3 linked regions of the Homo sapiens genome follow. The protein of the gene in region 3 purifies or fractionates together with the protein of the main gene of each other region. This does not show direct contact. Each region holds a gene or a part of one and is shown on either strand. Other genes may lie near its edges.

Region 1 (7,397 bases), on a different chromosome or scaffold from region 3:
TGGGTGTGGTGGCGTGCATCTGTAGTCCCAGCTCCTTGGGAGGCAGAGGTGGGAGGATCACTTGAGTCCAGGAATTCAAGGCTGCAGTGAGCTATGATCATACCAGTGCCCTCCAGCCTGGGCAACAGAGTGAAACCCTGTCTCTAAAAAATAGAAAATAGGCTGGGCTCAGTGGCTCACGCCTGTAGTCCCAGCACTTTCGGAGGCCAAGGCAGGCAGATCAGGAGCTCAAGAGATCGAGACCATCCTGGCCAACATAGTGAAACCCCGTCTCTACTAAAAATACAAAAATTATCTGGGCATGGTGGCACGCACCTGCAGTCCCAGCTACTCAGGAGGCTGAGGCAGGAGAATCACTTAAACCCTGGAGGTGGAGGTTGCAGTGAGCTGAGATCATGCCACTGCACTCCAGCCTGGCAACAGAGCGAGACTCTGTCTCAAAAATAAATAAACAAATAAATAGGCCCGGCGCAGTGGCTTACCCCTATAATCCCAGCACTTTGCGAAGCCAAGGCGGCTGGATCCCTTGAGACCAGGAGTTCAAGACCAGCCTGGGCAACATGGCAAAACCCCATCTCTATGAAAACAAATACAAAAATTAGCTGGGTGTGGTGGCGTGCATCTGTAGTCCCAGCTACTTGGGAGGCTGAGGTGGGAGGATCACTTGAGCCGAGGAGTTCAAGGCTTCAGTGAGCTACGATCACACCATTGCACTCCAGCCTGGGTGACAGAGTGAGACCCTGTCTCTAAAAAATAAAAAAATAAAAACCTTATTTAATCTTTTTAATCAGGCAGTCCCTACAGACCAGAATAGGTTCAGAGCAACTCCCTATACCTTTTTTTATTTTTCATTTTTTTTATTTTTAGAGATGGGGCTTCCCTTTGTCACCCAGGCTGGAGTGCAGTGGCGTGATCATGGCTCACTGCAACCCAGACCTCCTGGGCTCAAGTGATTCTTCCACCTCAACCCTTAGAGTAGCTGGGATCATAGGTGCACACCACCATGCCCAGCCAATTTTTAAATTTTTTTTTTCTTTTTGAGGCAGAGTCTTGCTCTGTTGCCCAGGCTGGAGTGCAATGGCATGATCTTGGCACACTGCAACCCCCGCCTCCCAGGTTCAAGCTATTCTCCTGCCTCAGCCTCCTGAGTAGCTGGGGTTACAGGCACTTGGCATTATGCCTGGCTAATTTTTGTATTTTTGTAGAGACGGGGTTTTACTATGCTGGCCAGGCTGGTCTTGAACTCCTGACTTCAGGTGATCCTCCTGCCTCGGCCTCCCAAAGTGCTGGGATTACAGGCGTGAGCCACCGCACCCGGCCCAATTTTTTACTTTTTTTTTTTTTTTTGTAGAGACGGGGTCTAGCCATCTTTTCTAAGCTGGTCTCGAACTTAATGTGCTCAAATGATCTTGCCTTAGCCTTCCAAAGTACTGGGATTACAGGCATGAGCCCCTAAATTTGGCCCCTACATTTTCTTTAATCTTAATCAATTTACATTTAAACAGCCCATGTGGCTAGCGGCTACTGTACTGGACAGCGCAGATCCAGAGTTTAGGCAGAGAAGAGACCCCCAGGCCTGAGCCCTGGGCCACACTAGCATGTGGAGGTCAGGAAGAGGATGGAGCCGTCAAAGGAGGTGGAGGGGCAGCCAGAGAGGACAGAATCATGTTCTGGAAGCCAAGGGCAGAAAGTCAAGTCAGATGCAGGTGGAAATTAACCACTGGATTTGCAAGATGAGGGTTCCTGGCCTCCTCCTCAGGAGGAAGGTTGTGCTTGTCTGAGGGAGCCGAGGAAGGAGGGCCGGTGGTGAGGACAGGAAGTGTGGCTGACCGAGCCTGAAGCCCTGCAGCTGTGGGGTCTACGTTGGTAGGAGAGGCTCCCCTCACAACTGGAGTCGGCACTGGCCTGGTTGTCTGGGAGGCAGAGGTCCCTGATAACCCTGGAGCTGACTCTGTGTCCAGAGCACTGAATGCCAGGGCCAGAGAATCCTGCATGACAGTGACCCAAGCATGTTTCCTCGAACCCTCCCTTTGATCTATTCCATTCTCAACCCCCTGGTCGCTAGGCAGTGGCCCTAGCAACGGGTCTAGTGGGGTACTAAAGCCTGGGGGCCACCGTTCCACCGCGGGAGACCCGTAGTTACCTGTCCTCTGATAACAGACCCCACATCAGCCCAAAATTTCTTCACCAGGGACCTTACACATCCCGTCCTCGGTCCCCTGAGATACCTTGCTATCCTCTTCCCTTCAGATATCAACAGTGATGGTGTCCTGGATGAGCAGGAGCTGGAGGCACTCTTCACCAAGGAGGTGAGCATCTTGGAAGCCTCGGGCACCTGGAGGGACGCCCAAATCAGCCACTTGTTTCCTCCTGCAGTCCCCTTAAATCCCCCTGGATGGGAGCTCAGTGAAAACTACAACTCCCATCAGCCCCTGGGGCAAAAACGGCTCCCAGGAGTGGTAGCGTGCCCAAAGGACTGCTGGGAGTTGAAGTTGTCGGGAATGAGCTCGCTGGGGACCTCTCAATGCTGTCTGCCTCTCGCTTGCTCCTGCAGCTGGAGAAAGTGTACGACCCAAAGAATGAGGAGGACGACATGCGGGAGATGGAGGAGGAGCGACTGCGCATGCGGGAGCATGTGATGAAGAATGTGAGGTGGGGGCCAGGCGGGGGAGAGGACGGGCCCCCAGCTCTGTCACTCACCCTTATCTGGCTCCCCAGGTGGACACCAACCAGGACCGCCTCGTGACCCTGGAGGAGTTCCTCGCATCCACTCAGAGGAAGGAGTTTGGGGACACCGGGGAGGGCTGGGAGGTGAGAACATGGGGGATACTCGGGGTCCTGAACCTCTCTCTCTTCTAGCCATGACCTTTCTTTCAGAATCTTAGGCCCCTTCTCTTTCTCTCTGGGTCCCCGTCCATTCTCCTGGGTCACTGCATCTCTATCTCTGGGTCTCTGTTTTCCCCTGTCTCTAGGACTCTTATTTATTTATTTATTTATTTATTTATTTATTTATTTATTCTGAGACGGAGTCTCACTCCATCGCCCAGGCTGCAGTGCAGTGGCACGATCTCGGCTCACTGCAGCCTCCACCTCCCAGGTTCAAGCAATTCTCCTGGCTCATCCTCTTGAGTAGCTGGGATTATAGGTGCGTGCCACCACACCCAGCTGATTTTTGTATTTTTAGTAGAGGCAGGATTTCACCATGTTGGCCAGGCTGGTCTCAAACTCCTGACCTCAGGTTATCCACCCACCTTGGCCTCCCAAAGTGCTGGGATTAGAGGTGTGATTTTTTTTTTTTTTTTTTTTTTTCTGAAACAGGGTCTTGCTCTGTCGCGTAGGCTGGAGCCCAGTGGTGGGATCTCGGCTCACTGCAACCTCCGCCTCTTGGATTCAAGCGATCCTCCCATCTCAGCCTCATGAGTAGCTGGGATTACAGGCGTGAGCCACCATGCCTGGCTAATTTTTGTATTTTTTGTAGAGATGGGGTTTTGCCATATCGGCCAGGCTGCTCTAGAACTGCTGGACTCAAGCGATCCACCTGACCTGGCCTCCCTAAGTGGTGGGATTACAGGCATGCACCACCGCACCACACCTAGCTAATTTTTGTATTTTTTGGTAGAGACAGGGTTTTGCATGTTGGCCAGGCTGCTCTGAAACTCCTGGACTCAAGCTATCCACCCTTCTCAGCCTCCCAAAGTGCTGGGATTACCCAGGCTGGAGTGCAGGGGTGTTATCATGGCCCACTGCAGCCTCAAACTCCTGTCCTCAAGTGATCCTCCTGCCTGAGCCTCCCTATTAGCTGGGACTACAGGCACATGCCAGCATGCCTAGCTAATCTAGCTCATTCTTTTATTTATTTATTAATATTTTTTGAGACAGGGTCTCCTGTCACCCAGGCTGGAGTGCAGTGGTGTAATCATAGTTCACTGCAGCCTTGAATTCCTGGGCTCAGGTGATCCTCCTTCCTTAGCCTCCTGAGTAACTGGGACTACAGGCACATACCACCATGCCCAGCTAATCTAGGTCTCTGTTTTATTTATTTATTTATTTGTTTGTTTATTTTTCAATACAGAGTTTTGCTCTTGTTGCCCAGGCTGTAGTGCAATGGTGCATTCTCAGCTCATTGCAACCTCCACCTCCCAGGTTCAAGCAATTCTCCTGCCTCAGCCTCCTGAGTAGCTGGGATTATATGCATGTACCACCATGCCCTGCTCATTTTGTATTTTTAGTAGAGACGGGGTTTCTCCATGTTGGTCAGGCTCATCTCAAACTACTGACCTCAGGTGAGCCACCCACCTCGGCCTCCGAAAGTGCTGGGATTACAGGTGTGAGCCATGGTGCCTGGCCTATTTCTATATATTTTTCAAGATGCCCAGCCAATTTTCTGTAGAGACAGGGTCTCGCTCCGTTGCCCAGGCTGACCTTGAACTCCTGGCGTCAAGTGATCCTTCCCACTTTCGCCTCCCAAAGTCCTGGGATTACAGGTGGGAGCCATGGTGCCCGGCCTTGTCTCTCGGTCTTTATCCCACTCCCACCTCCCACTTGGGCTTCTTTGCCCACCCACATGGCCCTGGCCTCCCAGCCTCCTCTACACCTCCCCCATTGGCACAACCCTCTCCAACATGGGTGGGCCGAGGTTGGACCTGTGCCCCTGATGGCCCCTGTGCCTGCCCTGCAGACAGTGGAGATGCACCCTGCCTACACCGAGGAAGAGCTGAGGCGCTTTGAAGAGGAGCTGGCTGCCCGGGAGGCAGAGCTGAATGCCAAGGCCCAGCGCCTCAGCCAGGAGACAGAGGCTCTAGGGCGGTCCCAGGGCCGCCTGGAGGCCCAGAAGAGAGAGCTGCAGCAGGTGACAGCGGGGGAAGCTGCTTCCATCCACTGAATCTCTGGCTGCCCGTGTCCGTGTCCCCATGGGTGTCCAGAAGCTGGGAAGGCCTGTGGCCACCATGTTAATCACTGGGGGAGCCTCAAGTATTCACCGCCATCTTGAGTAAGGGCAGACGTTTTCCCGTCTCTGACGGCTCTGTGGCTGCCATGTGAGATAAGGGCATTAAGGCTGTAAGTGAGGAGGGAAAGGCCCAGGAGGGGGAGAAAGGCAGACTCAGCCAGGGATGGGTGAGGGTTTCCCTGTCCCAAAGCAAGACCCAAGCTGTGACTGGAGGGAGAACTGGATCCTTGACTATTATTAAGCCCGACTGTCAATGAAAGAGAGAAACTGAGGCCCACGGAGAAGGGGTTGGCCGTGACCACTTAGCAGGCTGCTGTGAAGTCTCCGTTTGGGGACTGAGGCCTGAGCACTTGCAATGCCAGCATCACACCCTCTTGTCTGTGTGACCCCCCACCTCCCACAGGCTGTGCTGCACATGGAGCAGCGGAAGCAGCAGCAGCAGCAGCAGCAAGGCCACAAGGCCCCGGCTGCCCACCCTGAGGGGCAGCTCAAGTTCCACCCAGACACAGGTGCTGGCCCTAGTCCAGGGAGGAGGGGCTGCAGGGCTGGACCCCTGGGTCTGAGGTTGGAGGGGCTGGGCCTGGACTCCCAGATCTGAGGGAAGAGGGACTGGGGGCCCAGACTCCCAGATCTGAGGGAAGAGGGACTGGGGGTCCGGACTCCTGGGTCTGAGGGAGGAGGGGCTGGGGGCTGGGACCCCTGGGTGTGAGGGAGGAGGGGCTGGGACCCCTGGGTGTGAGTGAGGAGGGGCTGGGGGCTGGACCCCTGGGTGTGAGGGAGGAGGGGCTGGGGGCTGGACCCCTGGGTGTGAGGGAGGAGGGGCTGGGCCTCTGGGGTCCTGGGGGAGGAGGGGTTCGGATGTCCTGTGCCACCATTCCCTCCCTCCATTTCCAGACGATGTACCTGTCCCAGCTCCAGCCGGTGACCAGAAGGAGGTGGACACTTCAGAAAAGAAACTTCTCGAGCGGCTCCCTGAGGTTGAGGTGCCCCAGCATCTGTGATCCTCCGGGACCCCAGCCCTCAGGATTCCTGATGCTCCAAGGCGACTGATGGGCGCTGGATGAAGTGGCACAGTCAGCTTCCCTGGGGGCTGGTGTCATGTTGGGCTCCTGGGGCGGGGGCACGGCCTGGCATTTCACGCATTGCTGCCACCCCAGGTCCACCTGTCTCCACTTTCACAGCCTCCAAGTCTGTGGCTCTTCCCTTCTGTCCTCCGAGGGGCTTGCCTTCTCTCGTGTCCAGTGAGGTGCTCAGTGATCGGCTTAACTTAGAGAAGCCCGCCCCCTCCCCTTCTCCGTCTGTCCCAAGAGGGTCTGCTCTGAGCCTGCGTTCCTAGGTGGCTCGGCCTCAGCTGCCTGGGTTGTGGCCGCCCTAGCATCCTGTATGCCCACAGCTACTGGAATCCCCGCTGCTGCTCCGGGCCAAGCTTCTGGTTGATTAATGAGGGCATGGGGTGGTCCCTCAAGACCTTCCCCTACCTTTTGTGGAACCAGTGATGCCTCAAAGACAGTGTCCCCTCCACAGCTGGGTGCCAGGGGCAGGGGATCCTCAGTATAGCCGGTGAACCCTGATACCAGGAGCCTGGGCCTCCCTGAACCCCTGGCTTCCAGCCATCTCATCGCCAGCCTCCTCCTGGACCTCTTGGCCCCCAGCCCCTTCCCCACACAGCCCCAGAAGGGTCCCAGAGCTGACCCCACTCCAGGACCTAGGCCCAGCCCCTCAGCCTCATCTGGAGCCCCTGAAGACCAGTCCCACCCACCTTTCTGGCCTCATCTGACACTGCTCCGCATCCTGCTGTGTGTCCTGTTCCATGTTCCGGTTCCATCCAAATACACTTTCTGGAACAAATGCATGGCTCCATGCCTGTGTATCTGGACTGGTCCCTCCAAAACGCTATTGCCACGTCACCTGCCGGAGTCCTCATCTTTGAAGACTGGATTCAAGCATCACTTCTGAGAGGCTCAATCCTGGTATTTTTCCATCTGCCCCTGATGAGTCTGCAGCCTTCACTCAGGGTCCCTTCAGCCACAAGGACAGAAAACCCAAACCTGGGATTAAGCAATTTTTTTTTTTTTTTTTTTTGAGATGGAGTCTTACTCTGTCACCCAGGCTGGAGGGCAGTGGTGTAATCTCAGCTCACTGCAACCTCTGCCTTTTGGGATCAAGCGATTCTCCTGCCTCCGCCTCCCGAGTAGCTGGGATTACAGCTGCCTGCCACCACGCCCGGCCTTCTAATTTTTGCATTGTTTTAGTAGTGATGGGGGTTTCACCATATTGGCCAGGCTGGTCTTGAACTCCTGACATCATGATCTGCCCACCTTAGCCTCCCAAAGTGCTGGGATTACAGGAGTGAGCCACTGCACCTGGCCGGGATTAAGCAACTTTTAAAAGATGAATTTGGCCAGGTGCTGTGGCTCACGCCTGTAATCCCAACACTTCGAAAGGCCAA
Region 2 (8,392 bases), on a different chromosome or scaffold from region 3:
GCAGCCAGGCTACCCTCACAACTCAGTTTTCTAAGCAGATACTGGGATATTTGTGTGTGTGGTAGTGGAGTTGAGGGGACATTCAGGGCCCCACGAACAGCCAAAATAAGTTTGAAAATGCAAGAAGCTAGAGGCCTTGGCAGTCCAGCCAGAAGATGACATTTTCTGAGGTAGCTTCTTACTAACTGATCTAATCAAAATCTCAATCACACTGTGAGTTAGGAATTTTTGTCCACATTTTATAGAGAAAATGAAACTCATAAGGGATAAATGATCTGCCCAAGGCCTACAGAATCAAGGTTTGTGACTCAATTCAGAAATATAAGACAGTGAATTCAATTCCTCAGTGCCTGGGAGAGACCTGGCTCAAGTCTGAATCCATCATTCCTTTGCCAAAAACCTTTCGGTGACTTTCTGGCACCAAAGTCTCAAGGACGAGCACCTAAAGGAAAACATGCAATTCTTCAAGATCTGCCCTGACCAACCTCTTCAGCACCACGCTTTGACAAATTTCTCACAGCCTTCTCACTTCCGAGGTTTTACTTTGGTTGTCCCCTCTGGGTGATATTTCCCAAGACAGGCCCTGGCTAACTCCTCATTCTCAGTTCAATCATCTCCTATTCCAGGAGGCCTTTCTTAGATGCCTTAGATGGACGAGATAACCAACCCTCACTGTGCTCCCACAGCACTCGGTTCACATGTCAGTGATGCACCTTGCATCGTAATGATCTGGTGCCTCTCTTTTCTGCTAGCCTGCAAGTCCCATTAAAAATAAGGACACAGGCTTATCCACCTCTATCTACAGTGTCAGCAATATCACAAGTACTCACTACTAATTATTTCCTCAATTCAATCCCTAAACTAAAGATTGCTCAATTCAATCCCTGCTCTATAAATTACACCAGTGTGTGACCTCAGGCAAATCCCTGTACCTCGCTGTATCTTGGTTTCTTTACCTTTAAAATGGGCGTAAAAATAAAACTTACCTCACAGGGATATGGTGAGGATTAAATGTTACTTTACCTAAAGCACCTGGAACAGTGCCTGGCACACAGTAAACTCTCCAAGTGTCAGCTGCAACTGCCCTTGTTTTTATTATTCTTTCATTCATGAGATAAGACAAACAATGATAAGAGAGTCAACTACACTGTGAAGTGCAACAAAGCTGAATTTGGGAAGAAAAGGAAGTGCAGCCACGCTAAAAATCCTCATCGCACAAAGCAAGGCATCAAGAGACATGTCTAACCTGATGGATGGATGAGTAATAGATATTTTTAAGTATACTACTCAGAGATTATAACAGGATAATTAAAAACAAGAATATTACAGACACTGGAGAGGAGGAACAGATGATCTAAATTCCTTATTTTTCACAGTTGAGGCCTAGCAGATAGTCACTGGGGCAGGCAGGTCAAAAGGAGGAAAGTACACTCCTCAAATATACAGAGATACATGTGAGGAGTCCCAAAAACAAATCAATGAAGATGGTTACTCCTGGACAGAGAGGGAAGGTAGGACAGAGCAAAGACTTTGCTACTCATGTTATACACTACTATACTGTTTGAATTTTGAAAACTGTGTGTTACAAAGTTCCTTTGTCCCACCTGACAAATGAAAAAAAAAAAAGGAAAGGAAAAAACTCACAACATTAGAACAGAAATGGGGGCCAGGTGCAGTGGCTCACGCCTGTAATCCCAGCACTTTGGGAGGCCGAGGCGGTGGATCACCTGAGGTCAGGAGTTCGAGACCAACTTGTCCAACATGGCGAAACCCCATGTCTCTACTAAAAATAAAAAAATTAGTCGGGCTTGGTGGCGCGTGTCTGTAGTCCCAGCTACTTGGGAGGCTGAGGCAGGAGCATCGCTAGAACCCGGGAGGCAAAAGTTGCAGTGAGCCGAGACTGCCGAGATTGCTCCACCGCAGTCCAGCCTGGGAGACAGAGCCAGACTCCGTTTAAAAAAAAAAAACAAAAAAAGAAAAAAACAAAAAACAAAACCAAAAAAAGCCATGAAAGAGAGAGAAAAAAAAGAGATAAGACAAACAATGATAAGAGAATCAACTACACTTGAAACACAACAAAGCTGAATTTGGGAGGGAAAGGAAGTGCAGCTACGCTAAAAATCCTCATCCCACAAAGCGAGGCATCAAGAGACACTGTCTAACCTGATGGAAGGAGCAGTAATCCATTTAAAAACAAAAAAACAAAACAGAACAAAAAACAGCGAGAGAGAGAAAAAAGGATGATCCATTCGAGCCCACCGCATCTAATCATCTAATATTACGTACATTCACCTATTTTGCCTACCACGTGTCGGGTTCTGCGCTGGGCTCCAGGGAAACAAAAAAGTATGGCTGGGTCACCACTCCCCACTTACTGGATAAATGCTGTAAAGCCCTTTACCCACTCCGTATTCCTACTTGCCCTAAGGATGGGAGTGGGAATTGGAACGCAGGTCCGCAGATTAATATTCCCCATGTCTTCCCCAACAGTTTCCAGACTGGGAGAGGAATATAAATACAGTGTCGGACCATGTCCCGGGTCAACAACTAAAAAACAGTGATCGAATGAAAGAGGTTGTGGGAGCAGGGTATTCGCCACAAGGTGGGAGTTGTCATCTCCCCGAGAAGAGGTGTGTTAGGAGTCAGGTACCAAACAACCGGCCGTGAAACCGTAAGCAGTCACTATTCCTCTTTCCTCGGGATCAAATGGGGATAAGCCCAGGATCCCGCCCCCTTTGAGTTCAGAATTGGCCCGGAGTCCTGCCCCAGAGCAAAAATTCTTCGATCACCTCCAGGCATCTCTTCCCTACCTCACAGCTCCCGGCTGGTCTCATTTCAGATTCCCAAGTCCTGCCTCTGCACTCACCCCATTCGGGAGATTCTTCACGATCAGTCGCGACATGGCGCAGGGTCCCCGCTGTTTTGATTCCAACACGACTGGTCAGCGTCTTCCACCAAGTTTCACGCTACCGCCCTGGGCGCCGCCATCTTTACCGAGCCGGAACACAGTCACGTGGCTGAGACCTTGGCCTGACCTGTCCGGAAGTAGGCGTGGCTAATCCAAAACTACTCAGGGAGGTCACACCCCACAAGGGGTGGGCCTGGGCGCTTGCATTTTGCGCAGGCGCAGGGCCTTGGGCGGATTCTGTGAGACGCCAATGCAGCGGAGAAGGCGGCAGGGGGCGCCGGTCCCTAACATGCGCCGGTTTAGCTCGGTGTTAAGGGTCGCGCCAACCGGGCAATCGCGTTCTCTCCTTTTTCTTATTTTATTTTTATTATTGAGCCTTAGGACTCCCCTGAGAACGGGGGCAAGATTAGGGACCCTTGCCTTCCTCGTAGAAATGGGGAAAGTGAAGTTTAGAGAGATTGCCAGCCAACACAAATCAAGTATTGAGCCTTTTGTGTAAATACTTGGAATGAACATGTTGGAAATAAACGCTCTCATTTTGCAGGCAGATAAACTGGGAATCGTGCGTGTAAAGCAGCTTGCTCAAAGTCTTATAACTATGAATTGGAAAGTCAGATTCGAGCTAGGGACTGCCTAGGGCCCTACAATGAGTCTCTACGCCTTCAACCCCAGCCCCACAAGCATTTTGCCTCCCTTCCTAATGTTTGGAACTCTCAGCTGGCCAATCTTCTAGCTGAGAGATCTTGGCCAAAATGGCCTCTGAGCCTTTGTGTCTACTTCTATAAAATGGGAATAATTCTTTATTATGCTAGGGGTTAAGGAGGTGAGAACGTGAAAGGGATGTTATTTTCCTATTGCTTCTCTGAGCATTCTCGGTACCTACTCTTGGATGGAGACATCCTATGAAAACCCCTATTTTCACTCTTAAATGACGGTATTTCCTTTCTGTTTCCCCACAGTGCCTCAGCTGCACTGGACGTTGCTGCCAAGCTTCTGCAATTTCCTTCACCTAAAAGACATTCCGTCCCCCCTTCTTATTGTTAACAGCTTTATCACAAACCATGCAATTCACCCACTTAAAGTGCACAATTCAATGGTGCTGACTATATTTACAGAGGTGTGCAGCCATCACCACAATCAATGCTAGGACATTTTCATTACCCCCAAAGAAACACCACACCCTTTAGCTATAACCTTCCAATTCCTCCCTCTCCCTTCCCTCTGATAACCACTAATCTACTTTCCGTCTCTATGGATTTGTCTGTTATGGACATTTCATGTAAATGGAATAATACAATATGTAGTCTTTTGTAATTGACTTCTTTCACTTAGCATAATGTTTTCAAAGTTCTTCCATGTTGCAGCATGAATCAGCACTTTATTTATCTGTTTATTTATTTGAGACAGGGTCGGGCTCTGTCACCCCGACTGGAGTGCAGTGGCACAATCTCAGCTCACTGCAACCTCCGCCTCCCAGGCTCAAGCCATCCTCCCACCTCAGCCTCCTGAGCAGCTGGGACTACAGGCACATGCCACCATGCCTGGCTAATTTTTTTTTTTTGGTAATTTTTTGGTAGAGGCGAGGTTTCAACATGTTGCCCAGGCTGGTCTTGAACTCCTGGGCTCAAGCAATCCACCTGCCTTGAACTTTCAAAGTGCTGGGATTACAGACGTGAGCCACCACACTTTTTTTGCTGAATAGTATTACATATATGGATGTATTACATTTTATTTATTCATCAGTTGATGATGGACATTTGGGTTGTTTCCGCTTTGTGGCTACTGTGAATAATCTTGCCGTGAACATTTACCTGTAAGTTCCTGTGTGGGCATATGTTCTTATTTCTCTTGGATATATTCCTAGGAGTAGGATTGCCTGATCATATGGTAACTCTATGCTTAACCTTTTTAGAACCTGCTAACCTGTTATCCAAAGTGGCTTCCCCATTTTATATTCCTACCAGCGGTATATGAAGGTTCAAATATCTCCACATCTCCTCCAGTGTTTGTTATTGGGTCTTTATAATCATAGCCACTCTAGTGGGTGTACAGTGGTGACTCAATGTTTTGATTTGCATTTCCCCGATAACTAATGAAACAGCATCTTTCATGTGCTTTTGGCCACTGGAATATCTTTCTGAACCCATTCCCATCCCCTCTCTAAGACCAGCTCAAACATGGCATCCTCGAATATGCCTCTTTCCTACTGAGCCCCAAATGCAGGGAGCTCATGCATCTGCCACAGCATAAACCTACAGAACTCGCTGGTGAGGAGCGCACAGTGTAGGTTCAGAGTTATAGATGAGGCCACTTGTTCTTTCTACATTATGTTGCCATAGGGGCATCCTTAGATCCATCTTTGCAAAGCATCACACTGGGCACCAGGAGGAGACAGGTAATAGGAGTTCATTAAATGCTAATTGTAAATTAAGGTCTGTCCATTCAACAGAATTCTATGCAGTTGTTAAAAAACGGTAGGTATGTAGCTATAAATGTTTTTGAAGGAAATGCATCAGTCAGCAGGACACAGAGGTATACTCAAAAGGATTTAACAAAAGCAAATCTGGACAAAAAGCTATTTACAGAAGGGTGGGCAGTGTAGTGGGATGAATGATCCCCTGTCCCCTCACCACCACACACACTGGGGGCATCCTGACCCCTGGAAGCTGTAAATGTGACTTTATTTGCAAAAAAGTGTTGTATTAGTTTGTTCTCACGCTGCTAATGAAGACATACCTGAGACTGGGTAATTTATAAAGGAAAGAGATTTAATGGACTCACAGTTCCACATGGCTGGGGAGGCCTCACAATCATGGTGGAAGAGCAAGGGATGTCTTACCTGGTGGCAGGCAAAGAGAGAATGAGAACCAAGTGAAAGGCTTTCCCCTTATAAAACCATCAGATCTCGTGAGACTTATTCACTACCACGAAAACAGTATGGGGAAACCACCCCCATAATTCAATTATCTCCCACTGGGTCCCTCCCAGGACACGTGGGGATTATGGGAGCTACAATTCAAGATGAGATTTGGTGGGGACACAGCCAAACCATATCAAGGGTCTTTGCAAATGTACTTAAGGGTCTCAAAATGAGATCATCCTGAATTATCCTGGTAGACCCTAAATCCAATGACACATGTCCTTTTAAAGGACACACAGAGAACGTCATGTGTAGGTGGAGGTAGAGTCTGGAGTGATGCAGTCACAAGTCAACGAAGACCTGGAGCCACCAGAAGCTGAAAGAAGCAAGGAAGCGTTCTCCCTTGGAGGTTTTGGAGGGAGCATGGCCCTGCTGGTGCTTTGGGGGATTCTGGCCTCCAGAAATGTGAGAGAATAACTTTGCATTGTTATGCCATCTAATTTGTGGTAATTTGAGACAGCACCTGCAGCAAATGAATACAGGAAGGGTTAAGGGAACCAACAAAGGATGGCCAAACCCCAGGGCCTGGCAACAGTGGGGAGCTATCACCACCCCTGGGGCTGAAGGGCAGAGTAGGACATGTCATTCCTGAGCTTCAGTGATGCCAGGAGCCATGGAAGAGGGACGTACTTTAAGGACTAGAGCTATAGAGAGATACAGCCACTGTGGAACCACAGGTGTGTGTGTGTCGGGGATAAATACACTGTCCCCTCTTTCTCTTCCCAACTGCAGTTTCCTACTGGAGCCTCCCCTTGGCCGAACCAATGGGAAGCTGGAGGCATGATCACAGATGTTGCAGTGCACACAGATTGCATCTGGGGCACAGAGCAAAGTGGAGGAGCAGGCTCAGGGAATGGGAGATGGGCTGTTAGAGAAGAACTAGCACATGGGACATGGGACAATCTCCAAAATATATTGTTAAGTGAAAACCAGCAATATACTAAATAATGTATTATGTATGCTTTCACTTAGGTAAAAACAAAACACACACACAAAAAAAGGAGGGAGATGGGTGAGGATACATAGATACTTGTCATGTTTGTAGGCCAGGGTAGTCGTAAATTTCCAAATGTATTGTCTTGCAGTTCTGAAGGCTAGAAGTTCGAGATGAAGGTGTTGGCAGCGCCGGTTCCTTCTGAGAGCCGTGAGGTTGAATCTGTTCCTCCCTGTCTCACTTCTGGTGGTGTGCTGGCAATCTTTGACACTCTTTGGCCTGTAGACATGTCACCCCGATCTCAGCCTTCATCTCCACATGACAGTCTCCCTGTGTCCATGAGTTCATGTTCAAACTTCCCCATTTTAAAAGACATTGGATTAAAGCTAATTCTAATGACCTCATTTTAATATAGTTACCTCTGTAAACACTCTATTTCCAAATAACATCACTTTGTGAGGTATGAAAAGTTAAGACTCCAACATAGGAATTTGGAGGGGACACTATATATGATTTATGTAAGCAAAGGCGATCTCAAAAGATACATGAGGAAGTGGTAACAGCAGTTGCTTCTGGGGAGGGGACCGAGGAAGTGAGTATACGGATGGATGGAAATGTCCTTTACCTTGAGTAACCTTTTATAATTTTGATATTTCATTATGAAAAAATTACCTATTATTTTTAATACATTAAAATGTTAATCATGTATAAACTACATCTGCATATATTTATACTTAACCATAGGGTAAAGTCAACAAGCATGTATATTAATTGTGGGCATTTCTGCAGGATGGCTTTGGAGGGGTGAAATTGTAGGGAGCCCAGTAAATCTTTATGTATTTATTTTGGGTTTTGTCTTTTTTTTTTTTTGAGACGGTAACTGGGATTATAGGTGCACACCACCGTGCCTGGCTAATTGTTTGTATTTTTATTACAGATGGGTTTCACTGTGTTGGCCAGGCTGGTCTCAAATTCCAGACCTCAAGTGATCCACCTGCCTTGGCCTCCCAAAGTGCTTGGATTACAGGCATGAGTGACTGTGTCTGGCCTTTTTTTTTTTTTTTTTTTTTTTTTTGAGACAAGGTCTTGCTCTGTTGCCCAGACTGGAGTGCTGTGGTGTGATCAGGCCTTACTGCTGCCTTGATCTCCTGAGCACAAGTGATCCTCCTTCCTCAGCCTCCGAAGTGGGTGGGACTACATGCATGCATTACCACACCCAGCTAATTTTTAAATTTTTTGTAGAGACAGGGTCTGGCTTTGTTGCCCAGGCTGGTCTCAAATTTCTGGGCTCAAGTGATCCTCTCGCTTTGGCCTCCCAAAGTGCTGGGATCACAGGTGCACGCCACCATGCCCGGTCTGTATATGTTTTAAATCAGAGATTGGCAAACTTTTTCTTAAAAAGTCAGAGAGTATTTCACTATGTGGTCTCTAATGCAACTTCTGCATCCTGCTACTGTATTTTGAACACATCCAGAGCTAACATCTGTGGCCGTGTTCCAATAAAACTTTATTTACAAAACCAGGAAGCCACCCCATGAGCTATAGTTTTAAGTTACAGGATTATGGGGTGTATTGATTTTCTAGGGCTTCTATATCAAATTACCAGAAACTGGATGGCTTCAAACAACAG
Region 3 (8,620 bases):
GGAGATAACGGCAGTGGAGGTGGGCATTGTGGCCATCAGGGGTCTCTTCTCCGGGCGGTACCTGGCCATGAACAAGAGGGGACGACTCTATGCTTCGGTGAGTCCAGGCTGTCACGTGGGTGGGCGCTGACGGAGTAGCGGTCTGGCCTGCACATCAAGCCAGGGGACGGGGGATGTGGGCAGTAGAATGCTTTGCCAAGGGTACACGGGACCCAAGCTAGGACCAGACCCTGGCCCAGGGCTCCACGCCCAGTGATCTTTGGCTGTGTCTGTTAGAGGCTGCTCCGCGAGTGACCTGGAGCCTGGCCCTGGGGGACCTGGGATCTGGAGAATGCCAGGTTAGCAAAGGTTTCCCCCATCCTTGTCATCACTACCACCCTCCCTTGAGAGTAGCTGAGAGCAGGGAAGTGATTGTTCTCCAAATTTCCACCAAAATAAATGGACCCAAGACAACCTGGGAGTGTTCCTTGGGGCAGCCAGAGCTCTCCTGGGAGCATGGAGAGGAGGACGCTGGCCCAGCTCCACCGGCTCTCTCCAAGGGTGGAAAGGCGAGAGCTGAAGCCTAGGAGGGGAAGGGGGATGGCGCCCATGTCCCGGGCACACAGGAGCCTTGGAGCCCTGGCTTGGGACCCAGTCTATCTACTGCCTGGGCCTCCGTGTAACCAAAAAGGGTCTCCTTACTCTGTGGGTATGGCAGCGCCCCTCTTCATAAGGGGTAGGGGTGGGGAATACACAGAGTAAAATACATGTCACAGGGAAATTTGCTACCTCCAACTAGTCATTACATGCAATTTGGCTGATACTTCCTTGGGCAATGAGAGGTTTTCCATCCATGAGTAGCCTGGCTGACGCGGCCCAAGGACAATCTCCCTGCAGTGAGCTCTCTGCTCAGTCCTGCTCACAGAGGACACATCCCGCAGCTCCCTCTCGCAGAAGCTGATGATTTCATCACAGATTTTTAGCCGTTTTGCTAAAGGAAGGTCCAGAAAGCCGGGATGCGCCCCTTCATTTTCTCTGGTCCAGAGGCTACTCCCTCCTTCCTCCCATCCACTCACCCATCCACCCATCCACCCATTCACCCATCCACTCATCCACCCATCCACCCATCCATCCATCCACTCATCCACCCATCCACCCATCCATCCATCCACCTATCCATCCATCCATCCACCCATCCACCCATCCTTCCATTTACCCATCCACCATCCACCTATCCATCCATCCATCCACCCATCCACCCATCCACCCATTTACCCATCCACCCATCCACCCATCCACCTATCCATCCATCCATCCATCCATCCATCCACCTATCCACCCATCCACTCATCCACTCACCCATCCACCTATCCACCCACCCACTCACCCATCCATCCACCCACCCACTCACCCATCCATCCATACACCTATCCATCTGACATTCAGTCCATTCATCAGTCAGTGTCCTGGAAGCTGTGTCTGGGAGCAGGGGCCCTCATGGTGCCAGCTTCTGCCATAGGGGAGCCAGGATTTGGAGAGACAGAATAAAGCATGACATGAGGGGGTCCCAGTGGTTCAGAGCCCACCTGGGGCTTCCGTGCCTGAGAACTCACAGCCTGGCTTTGAGAAGGGTGGACAGAGGCTCCTAGCCCCACCAGGGATGCTTAGCCAAGCAGTCTGGCTGGAGGGTGTGGAACTTTCCAGAGTGCCCAGTGGAGAAGTTCCCATTGCCCTGCAGACAACCTGGGAGGCATAGTAGCCTGGATGCCAACTCCGTCACCTGCCACCTGCCACCTGATACCACAGTCCTGCGTGCGGCCAGCTTGCCTAGGAGTGCTGTCCCACCACGGGGCTCCCTGGACTTTGCCGGCAGCATGCTTGCCCTCAGGCCAGCTCATCTCACTGTGGGCCAGTGAGCACTGCACCCTGACACTCCTGGTCTGGCCCTGACCTCCCTTCTGAGGTATAGACCACCCTCCCCCAACATCCTGCTGACTCAGACACTCGAACCGAACTCAGCAGCTCCCCGACTCCCCATCTTAATCATCGCCCCACCAGCCACTCACTCTCACCCAGAGTGGGCTGGGAGTCATGGTAGACCCCTCCTGCTATTCAGTCCATCCCTAGTCCTCAGACCACGCCCCTGCATCTCTTCAGCCCACACACCTCACCTCCCTCTGCCTCATCCCTGAGAGCACGCCTTAAAAGGCAGGCTCATCACTTCCCACCTGGATCACTGCTCCAGCCTCTCCTACCTCCAGTCCATCTGTTTGTCAAGCCATCCATCCATCTTCCTTCCTTCTTTCCCCTTCCTTTATTCTCTTCACCCATCTGTCCATACACCTCTCCTTCCTTCCTTCTTTCCTTTCTCTCATCCTTCTTTCCATCCATCCTTCCAACCGTTCATCTGTCCATCTGCCCATTCACATGTCCATCCGTCCATGCTCCCTCCTTCCTTCCATCCTTTCACCCATCCACCCATCCACCCATCCACCCATCAACCCATCCACCAATCCATCCAGCAATCCACCCATCCATCCAGCCATCCACCCATCCATCCATCCACCTATCCATCCATCCACCCATCCATCCAACCAGCCATCCACCCATCCACCCATCCACCCATCCACCCATCCATCCATCCATCCATCCATCCATCCATCCATCCACCCATCCACCCATCCATCCATCCAGCCATCCACCCATCCATCCATCCACCTATCCATCCATCCACCTATCCATCCATCCACCCATCCATCCATCCAGCCATCCACCCATCCATCCATCCACCCATCCACCCATCCATCCATCCATCCATCCACCCATCCATCCATCCATCCACCCACCCATCTATCCATCCATCCATCCACCCATCCATCCATCCATCCACCCACCCATCTGACATTCAGTCCTTCGTTCACCAGTCAGTGTCCTGGGCACTTACCATGTGTTGCACTCTGCTAGTGCATGTTAAAGGGGCTTCCTAAAAAAGCAAATCAGCCCAGTTCATGGCTTCTGAGGACTCCCATGATGCGCAGGCATCCCCCAGGCACCTTAGCTCCACCCACAGAGCAGCAGCCCAGGTGCCATCTGCTCCCAGGGGGGCTGTCATCCAGAGGTTGAGCCTCCTCCGGCTTCCGGAAGCCCCCTCAACTCTCCAAGCCATCTGTACTGCTCAGGCCACACCTTCACTGCCTGGAACGCCCTCCTCCAGAAAATGCCCATGAGAAAGTGCCCGCCCCGCCCTTACAGCTCCCTTTAGAAGTCACCTCCTCAACAAAGCAGCTTCGGAGTCGGCTTCCTCCCCACCCTTCATGGGGTGGAAGCGGCCCTGGGGGAGGGGCCTGTGGAACCAGGTCTGGTGGGGCGGCAGTGTCAGGACACACATTGGAAAGTGTTGTCACAGCGAGTCCCAACTGCAGTAGCTCTGGAGTCTATGGCCCTGGCCCCTGAGCCAACACCTTCTGCCCTGGTCATCTTGGCCACCCCAGGTGCCCTACCACGTGTCAGCAATTGATCTACACTGCCCCCAATCTCCCACCTTGGGAGAGCCTGAGCCCCCTGCCACCTGAGGCTCACAGGCACCTGTCCTTCAGTGACCCACCCCTCAAGTGGCCCCCCAAAGAGAAAGCCTATTTCCTGGCCTCTCTGGCCCTGAGAGGACTCACCTGCTGCAGGATCGAGGGACCTGGGAGAAGCTTGGGTCCTGCCCTGAGCTTCTCACAGTCTGCCATGGGAGCCAGACACTAACATGGTGTACCCAGTGTGTGGGGTGGGGAAGTCGGCCCTGAGCCCACCCGCTCATTCCCAGATAGTCGCTGAGCCCCAGGCTATGTGGGGGTCAGGCACAGATCAGACACTGTTCTATCCCCTGTAATGTAGGGCCTGGCACCACCCCTGGGCCTCAGTTTCCCCATCTATAAACATGGAGACCGGTCTTGGATAGTAACATCCAGACTGTGGCCCAGGGGGCACTGGGCCTCCAAGAGGGCTGGAGAGCAGGGGGGCTTGGGGTTATGGGGAGAGGCAGCCCCTACCACCAGGTCAAGCCTTCCACCCTTCCCTGCTCTGGGCTTTCATGTCGCTGAAAAACAGGATGGGGTGCTTGAAGCATCTTGTTCCCTGAGGTCCTGCGAGGTCAGATGCTGCTCGGTCCAGTCTGGGAGCCTCTGGAGGCCATTTCCACTCTCTCTCTCTGCCACGGGACACCACACCCCAGATGGGGACAGACCATGAGGGCCTCCGACTCCTCCCTGCGGCCAGTCCCCAGGAGGAAAGAGAGATCCTGCTGTCTGCCTTGCACCTGCTGCTTCCACCTCCCACCACCCTTTCTGGTTTGGAGGGAGCAGCTCCTGTCAGTCATCCCCTGAGGGAGGTGGCCCTAGGCATTACCACTTGCCTGTAGCTGGGACTGAAGCCTAGTGGGTCTGCATAAGGCATACCCACCTCTTCCCTACGCCACAGACTAAGAAGACCCCATGAGGCAGCCCTTGAGGGAAACTCCCACGGCCAAGTCTTGGGGATGTTGGTGTAAGCTCCTTCAGTTCAGAGCTTCACTGTGCCTTTGAGAGGGCAGGGTCCCTTCTGCCCTTCCCCCACTGCACCCTGGGCCTGACAAGGGTCCCATTAATCTCTGATGACAAAGAGGTGTCCTCTCTGTCCTGCTTGTGGTGGGACACCCCAGCTTCTGCTCTCATCCTAAGAACAGCAGTATCTGTGGCACTGATTGATCATGTGCCTCATGCCAGGCCCCAGCCCCTGCTCTGTGTTGTAACCTCTTCAACCTGCAAGGCGAGATCCTCCAGCTTAAGAGAGTGTTGCTCAGGGGTCAATGACCCCAGCTGGGGCCCCTGAGCGCAGCGTTTAATGGAGAGTCTGGGCTCATCAAACCTGGCTGTGTCCCCTTCCCTTCCTGCTTTTTGTGTTCTTTCTTCTTTTTTCTTTTCTGCAATTTCTTTTTTTTTCTTTTCTTTTTTTTTTTTTTTTTGAGTCAGAGTTTTGCTCTTGTCGCCCAGACTGGAGTGCAGTGGCACAATCTCTGCTCACTGCAACCTCTGCCTCCCGGGTTCAAGTGATTCTCCTGCCTAAGCCTCCCAAGTAGCTGGGATTGTGGGCGCACGCCACCACACCCGGCTAATTTTTTTGTATTTTTAGTAGAGACGGGGTTTTGCCATGTTGCCCAGGCTGGTCTCGAACTCCTGACCTCAGGTGATTCACCTGCCTCGGCCTCCCAAACTGCTGGGATTACAGGCATGAGCCACCGTGCCCAGCCTCTGCAATTTCTTTAAAAGAGATCTGGGTGTTGTCATCTTCCTTTGTCCAAATGCCCAGTCCTTGCTGACCTCCACACTGCCAGCAGACTGCCAGGGCACCTGGGTTGGCCGGCCTGGTCTCTGCTCCACAGACAACCCTACACATCCCTTTGCTGTGTCAGCGCCCTCAGATGGGGGACAGAGGCTGGTGGAACCCAGAGAGCAGGAGCTGGGAGTTGTCTGGCACAGCTTTGAGTGAAGGTGACCTTTAGGCAGAAGGCCAAGTTCACCAGGCACACAGGGGAGGAAGGACATGCTGGGCAGAGGGCAGGGCCTAGGCAAAGGTGTGACTGGCTGAGAGTGCGCTGGGGTTTGGCACTGGACCGAACAGCCTCACAGGAGGGGAGGGAGGCATCAGGCAACCCTGGGCCCTGACGCTGCCACAGTCTCCCCGGGGCACTGACCATGATATCTCATCCCCGCAGGAGCACTACAGCGCCGAGTGCGAGTTTGTGGAGCGGATCCACGAGCTGGGCTATAATACGTATGCCTCCCGGCTGTACCGGACGGTGTCTAGTACGCCTGGGGCCCGCCGGCAGCCCAGCGCCGAGAGACTGTGGTACGTGTCTGTGAACGGCAAGGGCCGGCCCCGCAGGGGCTTCAAGACCCGCCGCACACAGAAGTCCTCCCTGTTCCTGCCCCGCGTGCTGGACCACAGGGACCACGAGATGGTGCGGCAGCTACAGAGTGGGCTGCCCAGACCCCCTGGTAAGGGGGTCCAGCCCCGACGGCGGCGGCAGAAGCAGAGCCCGGATAACCTGGAGCCCTCTCACGTTCAGGCTTCGAGACTGGGCTCCCAGCTGGAGGCCAGTGCGCACTAGCTGGGCCTGGTGGCCACCGCCAGAGCTCCTGGCGACATCTTGGCGTGGCAGCCTCTTGACTCTGACTCTCCTCCTTGAGCCCTTGCCCCTGCGTCCCGCGTCTGGGTTCTCAGCTATTTCCAGAGCCAGCTCAAATCAGGGTCCAGTGGGAACTGAAGAGGGCCCAAGTCGGAGCTCGGAGGGGGCTGCCTGCAATGCAGGGCATTTGTGGGTCTGTGTGGCAGGAAGCCGGCAGGGAAGGGCCTGAGTGCCAGCCCTGGCAGACTGAGGAGCCTCCCAGGAGCAGCGGGGCAGTGTGGGGCTTTGTGTCATCACAACATTAAAGTATTTTATTCTACTCTGTCGTTTGGTAGACCGTGATGCAGGCTGAGGAGCGCTTGCCGCCTTTACTGGAACGTGCTTGCTTCCAGCACAGCAGAATCCGCGCTGGCATCAGCCTGCGTCAGCTGCTGCTTTAAGAGGAAGACGGCATTCCCAGAAATCGGGCTAAAGGTGCATTTCAGTTCCCTGGTTTTAGAAAGTTACGTTTTTTTGGATGGTTGGAAACAAGCAAAGGCATGTTTGTGCATGTGTGTGCATCGTGTGTGTGTGCGTGGAGAGAAGGATCGTGTATTTCTGAAAGCGTGAGTGTGCATGTGGGTATGTGTGATCTTGTGTTAGTGGTACCTGTGTGAGGACATGTATGTGTGTGTGTGTTTCTGGGTGTGTCTGAATGTGTGATGTGTGTGTGTCTGTGTGTGTGTGTGTGTGTGTGTGTGTGTGTGTGTGTGTGGAGAGAGAGAGAGAGAGTTTACTTTCTTTGAAAACTCTAAAAAGCCTCTCCCTCTGGAAGCTGTGTGCTTCTCCAGGGACCCTTTAGAGCAACTGTGTCAGGTCAGGCAGCACAGAAACTTCCTTTATCCTTACAACCTGCTCTTGGGGCCCGTGCACCCTGTCTTTACCTAAGAAGGTGAGGCTCAGAGAAGCAATTACTCAGTGGCCGGGCCCTGCCTTGGACTAGGTGCCTCCTCACACCTGTTCCCCAACAATGGCATGGGTGGAATCACCTGGGCCGGCCCAGGTGAGAGCCAGCATGGGCAGTGTACTAACCTCTCCTGGCACTTGGCAGGATGGGCAGGGTCCAGGTGAGGAGGCTCTCCTGAGCCTGGGACTGTGAGGACCATCGCTCTCTGTTCCCATGCCCTCCCAGGGGTCAGAGAGCCCAGACTCAGAGAGCCCAGGGTCAGAGAACTTAGGGTCAGAGAGGCCAGAGTCAGAGAGCTGAGACTCAGAGAGCCCAGGGTCAGAGTGTCCAGGGCCAGAGAGCTTGTGGTCACAGAGCCCAGACTCAGAGAGCCCAGACTCAGAGCCACCTGATTGGTTAGTGCAGACTCGCCAAACCCACAGGGAGGCTGGGCTCCTCCCTGGCACGTGTGCAACACAAGTGAAAATCTCGGTGCCTCCTTCAGCCCCCAGCGCATGTCAGATTTCCCGGAATGGCTCCCCTGCAGCTGCGAACATTCCTGGCAGTCAACAGGAGCAGCACGCAGCTGAGCTCTGCTGTGGGTTTTGTTGTTTCTCTAGAGTGAGATGGGGCAGGGGCTGCCATCACTCCCTCCTTGCAGATGATGACCCTGAGTCCTGGCAAGGGGAACTTGCCCGGGGCTGTGTCAACACAGGGGAAGCAGCAGTACTCAGTGCTGCAGGATCAACAGATGGTCCCTGATGAAGGCGTAGGAGACACTGGGGGCTCTTGTTTAACATGTAAAACAGCTTTGACAAGAGAATGTGGATTTTTCGCAGCTGATGGCTGTGCCATGGTCACCTTCTTCCCCACACCAGAGTCCAAGGGACTTCATTTTGTGTGTGTGTTTGGGGGGTCATGGGCTGAATTATGTCTCCTCCCCAGAGTTCATCTGTTGAAGTCCTAACCCCTAGTAACTCAGCATGTGACCTTATTTGGAATAGGGTCATTACAGATGCAACTGGTGAAGATGAGGTAACATAGGAGTAGAATGACCCCTGAATCCATTGTGACCAGGATCCTCCTTAAGAGACACATGGGCACAGCCGTGCACACAGGAGGACGCCATGAGAGCGTAAAGGTGGGGACAAGGGTGATGCTGCTACAAGCCAAGGAGTGCCAAAGTTTGCCAGCAAACACCAGCAGCTAAAGGACAAGAAAGGAACAGACTCTGCCCTATAGCCCTGAGAAGGAGCCAACTCTGCCGACACCCCAGTCTTGGACATCCAGCCCAGAGTCCTGCAGATGATAAATGTCTGTTTGAGCCACCTACCCTGTGTGGGGCTGTGTTACCACAGCTTGAGCATCAGGCACAGAGGGCAAGGGGCCTGCTGGCCTCCAAAAGGAGAGCGACCCCGCTTCTGCTGGATGAGGGGAAGGGGAGAGAAGGCGGGCCCCAGGCTGAGAGCGTGGGCTCCCTGGGAGGGGTCAGAGGGTGCCCGCTGCTTCCGGTGCCACGGTGGGAACTCCTGCTTCCTTACACACAGGAGGGGCTGGGGGCAGGT

Evidence for each region. The genes of interacting proteins can lie anywhere in the genome.
Region 1: the proteins of FGF3 (region 3) and NUCB1 purify together in Homo sapiens (affinity purification with mass spectrometry; 2 studies listed by BioGRID and IntAct, with this or other methods). This does not show direct contact.
Region 2: the proteins of FGF3 (region 3) and RBM19 purify together in Homo sapiens (affinity purification with mass spectrometry; 2 studies listed by BioGRID and IntAct, with this or other methods). This does not show direct contact.

The regions. Positions count from the first base shown.
Region 1 is NC_000019.10:48,916,476-48,923,872, forward strand, and holds the end of NUCB1 (nucleobindin-1 precursor), read left to right. Parts: intron 1-2,228; exon of another isoform or gene 2,229-2,250; coding exon 2,251-2,309; exon of another isoform or gene 2,310-2,416; intron 2,417-2,554; coding exon 2,555-2,647; intron 2,648-2,718; coding exon 2,719-2,811; intron 2,812-4,678; coding exon 4,679-4,849; intron 4,850-5,351; coding exon 5,352-5,457; intron 5,458-5,842; coding exon 5,843-5,949; 3' UTR 5,950-6,897; downstream 6,898-7,397. UniProt on the Homo sapiens protein: Major calcium-binding protein of the Golgi which may have a role in calcium homeostasis. Acts as a non-receptor guanine nucleotide exchange factor which binds to and activates alpha subunits of guanine nucleotide-binding proteins (G proteins).
Region 2 is NC_000012.12:113,963,326-113,971,717, forward strand, and holds the start of RBM19 (probable RNA-binding protein 19), read right to left. Parts: upstream 3,001-8,392; 5' UTR 2,903-3,000; coding exon 2,867-2,902; intron 1-2,866. UniProt on the Homo sapiens protein: Plays a role in embryo pre-implantation development.
Region 3 is NC_000011.10:69,807,797-69,816,416, reverse strand, and holds the end of FGF3 (fibroblast growth factor 3 precursor), read left to right. Parts: coding exon 1-97; intron 98-5,716; coding exon 5,717-6,112; 3' UTR 6,113-6,449; downstream 6,450-8,620. UniProt on the Homo sapiens protein: Plays an important role in the regulation of embryonic development, cell proliferation, and cell differentiation. Required for normal ear development.